2 separate regions of the Homo sapiens genome follow, and region 2 is linked to region 1. Evidence: fine-mapped expression QTL. A gene starts in region 1. The other region holds a variant in brackets. All regions are shown on one strand. Distances are between the middles of the regions.

Region 1 (5,376 bases):
TTATGTAATCATTATTCTAATTAGTTAAATAGAAGTCCTTATGTATGTGTTACAAGAATTTCCCCCATAACATCCTTTATGATTTAAGTTCGATGACAGTTTGCGCTTGGTGGTAAAGGATTTTCTCCATGGCCTGAATTAAGACCATTAGAAAACACCAGGCCATGGGAGCAGTAACCATCTGATGACTGTTCTTGTGCATCTGGTGTCCAGGGACATGGGCGACGTGCCTCATCTGTGTTAGAGGGTGGAACAGATGTGTTTGGCACTGCATGGGATCTGGTGTTCCTCTTCTCCTGGATTCACATCCCCACCCAAGGCCCTCTTAAGTGTTCTGCCCTAGCCTGGTTCAAGGAGGTCATCCAACTGACTTTATCAAGTGGAATTGGGATATATTTGATATACATTTGCCTAACAACACGGAAAAGGGTTTTCCTCCTTCTTTCCCTGCAAGGGACATCCTACTGCTTTGAACGTCCAAGTATGCCTAGTCATCTTTTAAAATGTAAACGTTTTCAGAGAAATGAGGTTTGCTTTCCTTGTATGTGCTTATTATCTTGACTACCTGAATTGCGAGGGATTTTTATATATTCATATGTTCCAAAGTCAGCAACTCTCCTGTTGGTTCATTATTGAATGTGCTGTAAATGAAGTCTTTTGCAACTAAAATGAGATTTGACCACATCCAAAGAAAAAAAAATTAGAGGATGTAGTTTTCCACCAATCAGAGCAATCCAAACAAATCCAAAAGTTGAGTTTGGACTCAGTGGAAGGAGGCAGATTAGGCTTTTTTTTTTGGCTTCAGTGAGGTTCAAGAAAACTGAGTCCTCTCTTTGGTCCATGATTCTTTGGTGTTTGAGGCTAAAACCCTGGCTACTAATCAAGTGTTACTTTGACTCACTCTGCCTTTGTTTATCCTTGTTGCATCTGTCCTCCTAGAGGTAGAAGGGAGGGGGCAAGACAGAGTTGGGAATGCCTGCTTCTCTGGGCCACATGTCAACAGAGTGGTGGCCATTTCTAAACCTGAAAGATCTAAACATCATGCCTTAGCCTGGCCTAGTGTTTCTCAACAGGGTCCCACATTGGGCCAGGATAGTTTTCGTTGTTGGTATGTCCTGAGCATTGCAGGAGGTTTTGCATATGCTAGTAGAACCTGTCAGCCTTCCCACAATTCCAGATGCTTCCTGGTAGGATGGAACCTTCTCCCTCATCTTTGAGAACTAATGGATTCTTTGCGCTTACTCACCTACAACATGTCCCCCACACTGAACTTGCACCCTGCCATTTCCTAGATGTCTGCTTGGCAAGAGCTTCCAAATTACTAAATATTCTCATCTCTAGAACTTTTAATACAATGGGTTCTCAAGGAATTAAAATAAAATGCTAATATGAGAATAATTCAGAATATAACTAAATTTTAGATTATTTATAAAGCAACATGGAATCTTGTAGAAACTCAGGGACGGGCTGGGCGCGGTGGCTCATGCCTGTAATCCCAGCACTTTGGAAGAACGAGACGGGCGGATCACTTGAGGTCAGGTGTTCAAGACCAGCCTGGCCAACGTGGTGAAACCCCGTCTCTACTAAATATACAAAAATCAGCCGGGTGTGGTGGCGCAGCCTGTAATCCCAGCTACTTGGGAGGCTGAGGCAGGAGAATGGCTTGAACCCGGGAGGCGGAGGCTGCGGTGAGTTAAGATTGCACCATTGCACTCCTGCCTGGGCTACAGAGTGATCCAAAAAAAAAAAAAAAAAAAAAACTGAAAAACTCAGGGACGTTGTTATAACTTAACTAGTGTTCTTTGTTCTGTGGTGTGCTGAAAAGAGAGTTAATGGAGTCCTGGCTGTCAGTTCACCGTGAGTCATAAGAGGATGTGTCCTAATGTTTCAGATTTGTAACTGGGGATCCCCTGGAAGAATCGTCTGGAAATTACGACCTTCATCTGGCGATTGCAGCTGTTAAAGTCTCCAAAGAAGCCATTCTTACATTGTGTTGTGAAATTATTACTCTATCTCAAATCTGTGCCAGAAAGAAAATAAAATGTGTGTTTATGTGTATATTATAAGCTATGTTTTATTGAACTAATCATTACAGAACTTTTATTGGGCACCGACTGTGAGCCAGGCACTGTGCTAGTTTCTTTGAAGGCATTATTTAATTTAATGCTCACAAAACGCCTCTGTAGTGAGCAGTATTGTCATTCCCATTTTGCACGTAAGGAAGTTAAGGCTTAAGAAAGTTGTGCAGCTTCCTCAGGATCACCAAGCCAGTTAAGCACAGTGTCAGATTTCAAATCCAAACTTTGAAATTCATTCTCTAATTTCTTCAGACTACATGGATCGGTTCGGTCCAGTCTAGCTGTCCCAAGTTCTACTTTGGTGTTTTGAGTCTGAAACCCCAACTACTAATCACGTGTTACTTTTACTCGCTTTGCCTTATTTTGCATGTGTCCTTGTTGAATATGTCCTCCTCCAGGAAAAAGGGAGGTGGCAAGACAGAGGCGGCAATAGGGGTTTATTCAACAGATATTTATTGGGCACCACCACCCGCAGATCCCTGCACTGGGCAAACAGGACAGAGATGTTCCTGCCTGAAAGGATGTGTGGATAAGTGCACAAATGTGTGGATAGATGGATAAAATAAATAAGGAGGAAGCACATGGAATACATCAACAAATAAGTGAATCATGGTATGAGAGAATCAGCGGGAACAGTGGATGGCATGGGTGTGTGAGTGAATGGGGAAGTAAACGAACGAACGAACGAATGAATGAATGAAGTGGTTTTGAGTCTGAGCTACCAGAAGCCCGAGAGCCTGGCTGCGGGCGGGCGGAGGGGCGGCTACTCCACACAGTACGGTAGGCGCAGGCTGCTCCTCCTGTAACCCAGCTCTCACCGCCTCCCCCTCCTCTCCTCTCTCTCCTCCTCCTTCGCCGTCGCCGCCGCCGCCGGCCGCCCGCCGGCCGCCACGACCCCAGTCCCCGGCGGGCGGGCGGAGGAGGCGACCGCCGCGCGCTGCTGCACTCATCCTGCCGCCGCCGCGATGCGCAGAGGGGCCGAGCCGCCTGGGGGCCGCCGCCGCCGCCGCGCCGCACCATGAAGCTCCGCAGCAAGGCGGCGGCGCTGCTCTTGCTCGCGCTGGCCGCGCTGCTGCTGGCGCTGCTGTCCCTGCGCGCTGGCCGCGCTGAGCCCCCAGCGCTGCCCGCGCGCCCCGCGTCCGCCCCGCAGCGCCACCCCGCGCCTGTCCCCGCGCGCTGGCCGGGGCCGGGCGCCCTCCCCGGGGCCAGCCCGGGAGTTCGGAGGCGCCGGCCCCCGCGTCCGCGCCCCCGAGCGGGCCGCCGGGGCGCTGCGAGACTGGAGAAGTTGGCGAGGTGAGTCGTGGCAACCCCAGAATCCCATCTGCGGACCCGTGTCTCGCTCCCTACACCCGTGCCAAGTCCAAGGGAGGCTTTGCGCTGGAGAGACAGATTTCCAAGTTTCACCCACGGGCTGCCCACTTCTGTTTCTTAACCCGATAGAAAAGAAGACCCACCTTGGTGGAGTCCCCCTAACAGCTCGGTGTTGATAATCACGTACATTTTTTGAAGTGTCAAGGAAAGTGGTTTCGTACATTACATTTTTTAACTGTCAAGGCAAGGCGTATTTTTGCACTCTTGCAAACATGCACCCTTTGTTTAATTTGTCAAAAGCCATCACGGTGCAAGAATGTTTTATCTAATTCTCATGTTTCACTGGAGAATTTTACCGAAACCTTAGATATGGTTGAGTTGGAAAAGTTAGATGTTTACCAAGGACTGGCAGCCTCTCATTTAACCTCGAGTACCCCCATGCTTAGAACAGAAGGGACACTTGACCTAAGTTTATTAAAAAGAAGTTTTCTCCTTGAAAGGACTGATGCGTGGCACAGAAAAGACAGAGTGGGGGTTTCCAGATCCTCATTCTGTTTCAGGCTCGAGTGTGGTCAAAGGGTCCTCCTACAAGAAAAACAACTTAACCTTCGACCTTCTGTTTGATACTCTCTTTCCCTACACAAAGCCTAACACGCGGAGGCTTTTCATCAGAGAGCTTTATTTTTGGCCTCAGGGTTGCTGGAACGCCCCGCAGGTTAGGGATTTGAGTTCATTTCCTTTGTTGTGGAGGGCTTTTCAACAATCCCCTTGTCTTGTAGCGAGTCTGTTTCATCTGCCCTTTCAAAACTGTTGTTTCTAACTGCCATTGCAACGTCCTTGTTTGCTGGGCTCCTTAATTTCAACCTGAAAGGAGTTGAAAAATTATTTTTGACCATAATGACTAAATCTCTTTGGTGCCTTTACTGTAACTAAAAGACACGAAACCTCAAGAAGTAGCTGTGTCAGCCTTTGTTTCCCTTCTGTCTCAGTACAAATGGGTACTGACAAGTTTTAGGGGGAAAAAACCCCAACAATCTGTCGCTTTAAAGTACTTATAACACTTTACAGCCCTTTCTGGATGTATACAGTCTTTAAGGATATCTTTGTTAGGAAATTAATAGGATTTCCCCTCTTCTATACTGGAGTTTCTTGTAAGAGATTAATTAGGGTTTAACTGCAAGTTTAATATGATTGCTAAGTTTGATGGGACAACTGGTAAGATAATAATAACTGTCATCCTTAACATCGCTAACCTATTGCCAGGGACAGTGCTAACCGCAGTACATACAAATAGTCACAGTTAACACTTAACATATACAACTACATAATCCACACCATAACCTTCCCCCCCACCGCTGTTTTTCTTTTGGTTTTTTTTTTGTTTTTTTTTTTTTTTTGTGACAAAGTCTTCCTCTGTCGCCCAGGCTGGAGTGCCGTGCTGCGATCTCTGCTCACTGCAACCGCTGCCTCCCGGGTTCAGGCCTCCCAGATTCAAGTGATTCTTGTGCCTCAGCCTGCCAGGTAGCTGGCAAACAGGCGTGTGCCACCATGCCCAGCTGATTTTTGTATTTTTAGTAGAGAGACGGGGTTTCACCATATTGGCCAGGAACTCCTGAGCCCAGTGATCCATCTGCCTCAGCCTTTCCCAAAGTGCTAGGATTACAGGCGTGAGCCACCGCGCCGGGCCCAACCATAACCCTTTGACAGTGGTTCTCAAAGTGTGGACTTCAGACCAGTGGCACAGGCATCATCTGGGAACTTGTTAGAAATGCAGATTCCTGGGCCCCACCCCAACCCTACAGAATCAGAAGCTTTGGGGGGTCAGCAACCGTGTTTTAACACGTCCCTCCCATTGTTTCTCATGCACAACAAAGTTTGAGAACCTGCTCTGCAAAGTAAGCACCAATGGTATCCCCACTTTTCAGATGAGGAAAGTATTGCACAAGGGTTAGCAGTTTGTCCAAGGTTCACAGGTAACCTGGTAGAG
Region 2 (5,376 bases), 85 kb after region 1:
GCACTTTGGAGGCTGAGGTGAGGAGTTCAAGACCAGCCTGGGCAACATAGTAAGACCCTGTCTCTGAAAAAACAAATTAAAAAAAAGAAAATAAATGAAAAAAAGAAAGTATGCATTTGCTAGGGAGAGTCCTGGAGAATTCTAACTCTGAAATTCGCAGAGTTGGCTGAGCGTGGTGGCTCACATCTGTAATCCCAGCACTTTGGGAGGCCGAGGTGGGTGGATCACCTGAGGTCGGGAGTTCGAGACCAGCCTGACCAACATGGAGAAATCCCCCCGTCTCTACTAAAAATACAAAATTAGCTGGGCGTTGTGGCGCATGCCTGTAATCCCAGCTACTCGGGTGGCTGAGGCAGGAGAATCACTTGAACCTGGGAAGCAGAGGTTGCAGTGAGCCAAGATCATGCCATTGCACTCCAGCCTGGGCAACAAGAGTGAAACTCCATCTCAAAAAAAGAAAAAAGCAATTTCTAGAGTTGACTTCTGTACAGGGAAAGTGTTTAGCATGCATCCAAGCTTTTCCTTCTGCATTTCCTGCTATTTGGTTTTCAAAGGCCAGGTGATTTAATTATGCAGAAAATTTGTTCTGTGCTTAATGATATCCTCACATTTAAATATTCAAACACTGACTCCAGGGGCAAACTCATTCAGGAGTACGAGCAGAAGTTAAATAAGTACACAGCAGCCGTGTGTCTATCAGAGCCACTCTTGGGTTTCTTTTGTGATCTGTCACCCCTGGTTTGGAGTTGAGCAGTTGTGGTTCTTGAGTTGCAACTCATCTTGTTTGTTTTCTGGGGGATCAGAAAGAGGGCTGAACAACTTTGTTTCATAAATGATTCTGCTTAGTACACTCCATGATTTTCCTCAGTTGGGCCTGAAAATATAGTTTTCATTCAGGCATTTCAATCAGAAAAATGACTAACCCTGACCCAAAATGTGAGTAAATGTAAAGAGACTCCATCATAAAAGATGTATTTCCCCATTCTCTACAATGCTGTGAACCATTGTGTAGTGGGTCAGAGCTTGGCTTTGGGCCTGGACAGACAGGTTCAAATCCCAATTTTGCCGCTTTCTGGTGATTTGCCATTAACTGTGCCCTTACCTTGCTGGGCCTCAGTTTTTTCATCAGTCAAGTGTAGATAATAAGATTATCTACCTCAAACAAGTGTTATGAAAATTCAACAAAATGATAGTCTTTATGCTTTTAGTACAGAGCCTGACATACAGTTTGTGCAATAATTAGAAGTTGTTTTGGCCAGGTGCGGTGGCTCACACCTGTAATCCCAGCACTTTGGGAGGCTGAGGCAGGTGGATCACTTGAGGTCGGGAGTTCGAGAACAGCGTGGCCAAAATGGCGAAACCCTGTCTCTACTAAAAACATGAAAATTAGCCGGGCGTGGTGGCGCATGCCTGTAATCCCAGCTACTTGGGAGGCTGAGGTAGGAGAATGGCTTGAAACCGGGAGGCAGAGGTTACAGCAAGCCAGGATCGTGCCACTGCACTCCAGCCTGGGCGACAGAGTGACACTCCATCTAAAAAAAAAAAAAAAAAGATATAAGGAAGTTGTTTTGATGATAACAATTTCACACTTTCTCTAGCTTTTTCACATTTCTCTCTCTCTTCTTGCTTATAAACAGTTTCTCTCTATATACCTTTTTCTTTTTCTCCCTTCATCTGTCTCTGAAAATATTCTCTCTCTTTCTCTCTATTTCTCTCTCTGTTTCAGGTGCTCATAGACATCCTAACCTGTGTGTTTGTGTGTACGTGTTTGTGTGAAAGGGCAGTGCAGCCTCCCCACAAGAAGGCATCTATCATATAGACATTTTTGCAGTAATTCTCTTGACAGTCACTTATGAAGCATCTATTTTATGCAGGAACAATTCTAGTTTCTAGGAATTTGGAAGGTAATAAGATGAACAAAGCCCTAGTCTTTAAGAAGCATATATTCTGAGCTGGGCGCAGTGGGTCACACCTCCCAGCACTTTGGGAGACCGAGGCAGGTGGATCACCTGAGGTCATGAGTTCGAGACCAGCCTGGCCAACATGGTGAAACCCCATCTCTACTAAAAATACAGAAATCAGCCGGGCGTGGTGGCAGGCACCTGTAATCCCAGCTACTCAGGAGGCTGAGGCAGGAGAATTTCTTGAACCCAGGAAGTGGAAGTTGCAGTGAGCCAAGATCGCACCACTGCAGTCCAGCCTGGGTGACAGAGCAAGACTCTGTCTCGGAAAAAAAAAAAAAAAAAAAGAAGCATATATTCTGGTGGGGGAAGCCAGACAATACTGATTGAGAAAAAGAAAGAAAAATTCAGCCTGGGCGACATAGTGAGATGCGTCTCTACAAAAATTAAAAAAAAAAAAAAAAAATTAGCCTGGTGGCACATGCAGGTAGTCCCAGCTACTGGGTGGGGAGGGGTTGGGGCTGGGGTGGGAAGATCTCTTGAGCTTAGGAGGCCAAGGCTACAGT[G/A]AGCTAGGATGGCCCCACTGTACTCCAGCCAGAGCAAGACTTTGCCTCTTTAGGAAAAAAAATAGTAACAACTGGGCGTCATGGCAAGTGCCTGTGGTCCCAGCTAATTGTGAGGCTGAGATGGAGGATCACTTGAGCCCAGGAGTTCAAGGCTGCAGTGAGCCGTGATTGCCCCTCTGTACTCCAGCCTGGGTGACACAGCAAGACCCTATCTCAAAAGAAAAAAAAATCCTCTGAGATAGTGAAAGGTGAAAGGAGTTCAAAAGGTGTAAAAAGAGTGGGCTGATGGGTCCAAAGTCCTGGGCTGGAGAGGAGTGTTCTACCAGCTGGGGGAGGGGCACCAGGGAGGCTGCTTGTAAGTCCTAGACTTATCAGATGGAGGCAGCCCAGGGGAAATCTGGGGAAAATCCCGTGAAACAGAAGGAATGACCAGGGGAAAGTCCCGGAGGCAGGAATGAATTTGGTGTGCTGGAAAGACAGGAATGGCCAGATAAGAGGAGAGAGGAGGAACTGAGAGGGGAGAGTTTCCAGGTCACCTTGAACCTTTAGAACAAGGGAGGAGTTGGAATCTCATTCTAATGGCAGTGGAAAGCCCCTTCGGGAAAGTGATAGGCTCTGATTTATGATTTAGAAATATCACCTTGGTAATGTGGTGGAAGGGATGCAAGAGTGAAAACACAAAGGCTATTTATTTGTGAGACTAATCGCAGCCACCTGGGTGAGCAATGGGGCCAGCATGGGCTTGCGTGGTGGCAGGAAATGGGAAGAAGTCGCCATATTTGGGATATGCTGTTGAGATAGAGTTTACAGGACTTGCTGATGAATTGGATGAGGGTTGTGGGGGGAAAGAGAGGAATTGAGGGTGATTCCAAGGTTTTGACCTATCCTGTTCCCATTACTGGAGCTACAGTGGTGAAAAGGACAGATTCAGGACTGGCTTCAAGGGGTTTATCAATGATTTAAATTTCATGATTAAAGAAAAAGTATCCCAAACCAACCTGGTCTGGGAGAGAACCTTCTTGCATTACATAATGCATAATCTCCTTCCGAGAAGAAACTGGCATCTCTGATAAACCTGTGTAAGCAGTATTTCTGATTAATTTTAAAGGATTAACATTTGTTCTAGGAAACCAGACACCCACCTCTCCTGTTAGGCAAGAGTGTACTGATCTTTAACCATTCTTCTTTCATTTCTCACTAGTCTTTCCATATAAAATGTCCTGACCAAGAGTGGATCTTTGACTTGATCTACTACCAGACTTTTCCCTTTCAACAAGATTGTAATAAAACTTTGATACATGTGCGTAACTAAGTGGTCTGAAAGATTTATTTTGGGTTATACTGCTCATAGACGTATTCCATGAAGAAAACAAAAGAATTTTAAAAAATGGCAGTGATGATCTCAAAAGCCCAATATTAAGAGGGAAATAAACAACCACTAATATTTGGTACCTGAATTATTAAAATCTGGTTTATTGCCAATAAATTTTACTAGTAATTGTTAAACCCTGAACTTCACGAGATTACCATAGACATACCCTAAAGTTTCTTCATTAAGGTCAAAAAAGATGAAGAATTCATTGTTTTGTTGTAGTAGATTTCAAGTGAGTATCTTGAGCCTTCCTTCTACTCAGCGTAAACATGCTATGATATATGGACTTTCCTGTCCTTAGAGACATGCATCATTTTTAGATTGTAAGACCCTTAAGGACCCAAATTTTTTTTTAATTTTATTACTATTCTTTTTTAATGAGATGGGGTCTTGCCATGTTGCTCAGGCTGGTCTCAAACTCCTGGGCTCAAGTGGTCCTCCCACCTCGGCCTCTCAAAGTGCTGGGGTTACAGGTGTAAGCCACCATGCCTAGCCTTTTTCTTTTTAAAGAGGTAAAGAAACTGAGGTTCGGAGAGTTTAAATGATTACCTGGGGTTGCACAGCTGAGACAGGATTTTAAGTTAGATCCTCAAAGGTCTTTTCACTTGTCCAAACCTGTGCCTGTGGGCTTATCGTAATTCCTGTGTCATTTCTTAGTAAAAATGATCTGCATTTAAAATGGCATTTCCGTTACTAAATAAACTTTTTTTTTGTCATCTTTCAGTTTCCCTTTCAAGACAATCTCTTTCAATCCATGTATTACCCCCTTCAGCTGAAGTTTTTGGAGACTGTGCACACTTTATGTGGACGAATCCCGCAAGTTTTTCTGAAGCAAATTGAGAAAACAATGAAAAGGGCTTATGAGAAACACGTCATCATCCATGTTGGCCCCAACCAGATGCACTGAATATTTTGTCTTGTTGCAAGTCAATTAGGTGTCTTGTGACCAAGGAAATACTAATCTCTAAGCTGCCTGGGTCTTTTTGTGTGAATATTTAATGGTGCTCCATGACTGTTGAGTTTTAAAAACCTCGTTAAATTTTGCCAAATCAGTTGCCCCCAAAAGGGAATATGCTTTTCCTTATTTTTTTTTCTAAAATGCTATTTATCTCTAAGGAAAAAAAAAAAAGACTATTACTCATTTAACATTGTTTAAGCAGGTTGAGCTAGCTGTGAAAATAGCTTTTGTGAGCCTTCTAATTCCTAAACGTCTGAGACCATTTCAGTGGCACCTGAGGTGTTATATTGATCTAGCATTCCTGAGACTCTTTCTATGCAACTGACTCCCCCACACCCGTGTTATAAAAGTAATACACACTTTTGAAACAGAGAGACACACTTGTAGAGCATATGGGTCAAGGGCTCAACATCAAGATTAGATTAGCCATAATCCTATTGACCAGTGGAAAAGATTGTTTCCATTTTAAAGCAGTTCCTTACAACCTTTTTTCTCTACTTTTGCATTTTCCACTCTAACACACATCTAAAACAGGTAATCTCAGTAAAAGCTGGCCTTTTTGCTGAGATTTTTATGTGG

What was found. PIP is the estimated chance that this variant, and not a neighbour inherited with it, causes the effect.
Region 2: its variant is fine-mapped to the expression of GXYLT2 in lung (TOPMed, PIP 0.98).

What each region holds. Positions count from the first base shown.
Region 1 is chr3:72,885,138-72,890,513 of GRCh38, forward strand. It overlaps GXYLT2 (glucoside xylosyltransferase 2), which reads left to right and starts at 2,909. Exons shown (of 7, transcript NM_001080393.2): 1 at 2,909-3,371. The coding sequence starts at 3,097. RefSeq lists silencers at 2,949-3,178, 3,279-3,408.
Region 2 is chr3:72,970,414-72,975,789 of GRCh38, forward strand. GXYLT2 (glucoside xylosyltransferase 2) reads left to right here. Exons shown (of 7, transcript NM_001080393.2): 7 at 4,564-5,376. The coding sequence ends at 4,746. Among named protein-coding and RNA genes, the nearest start is that of PPP4R2, 24 kb to the right of the region's middle. RefSeq lists a silencer at 680-809. The variant G/A (reference allele first, on the strand shown) is at 2,468.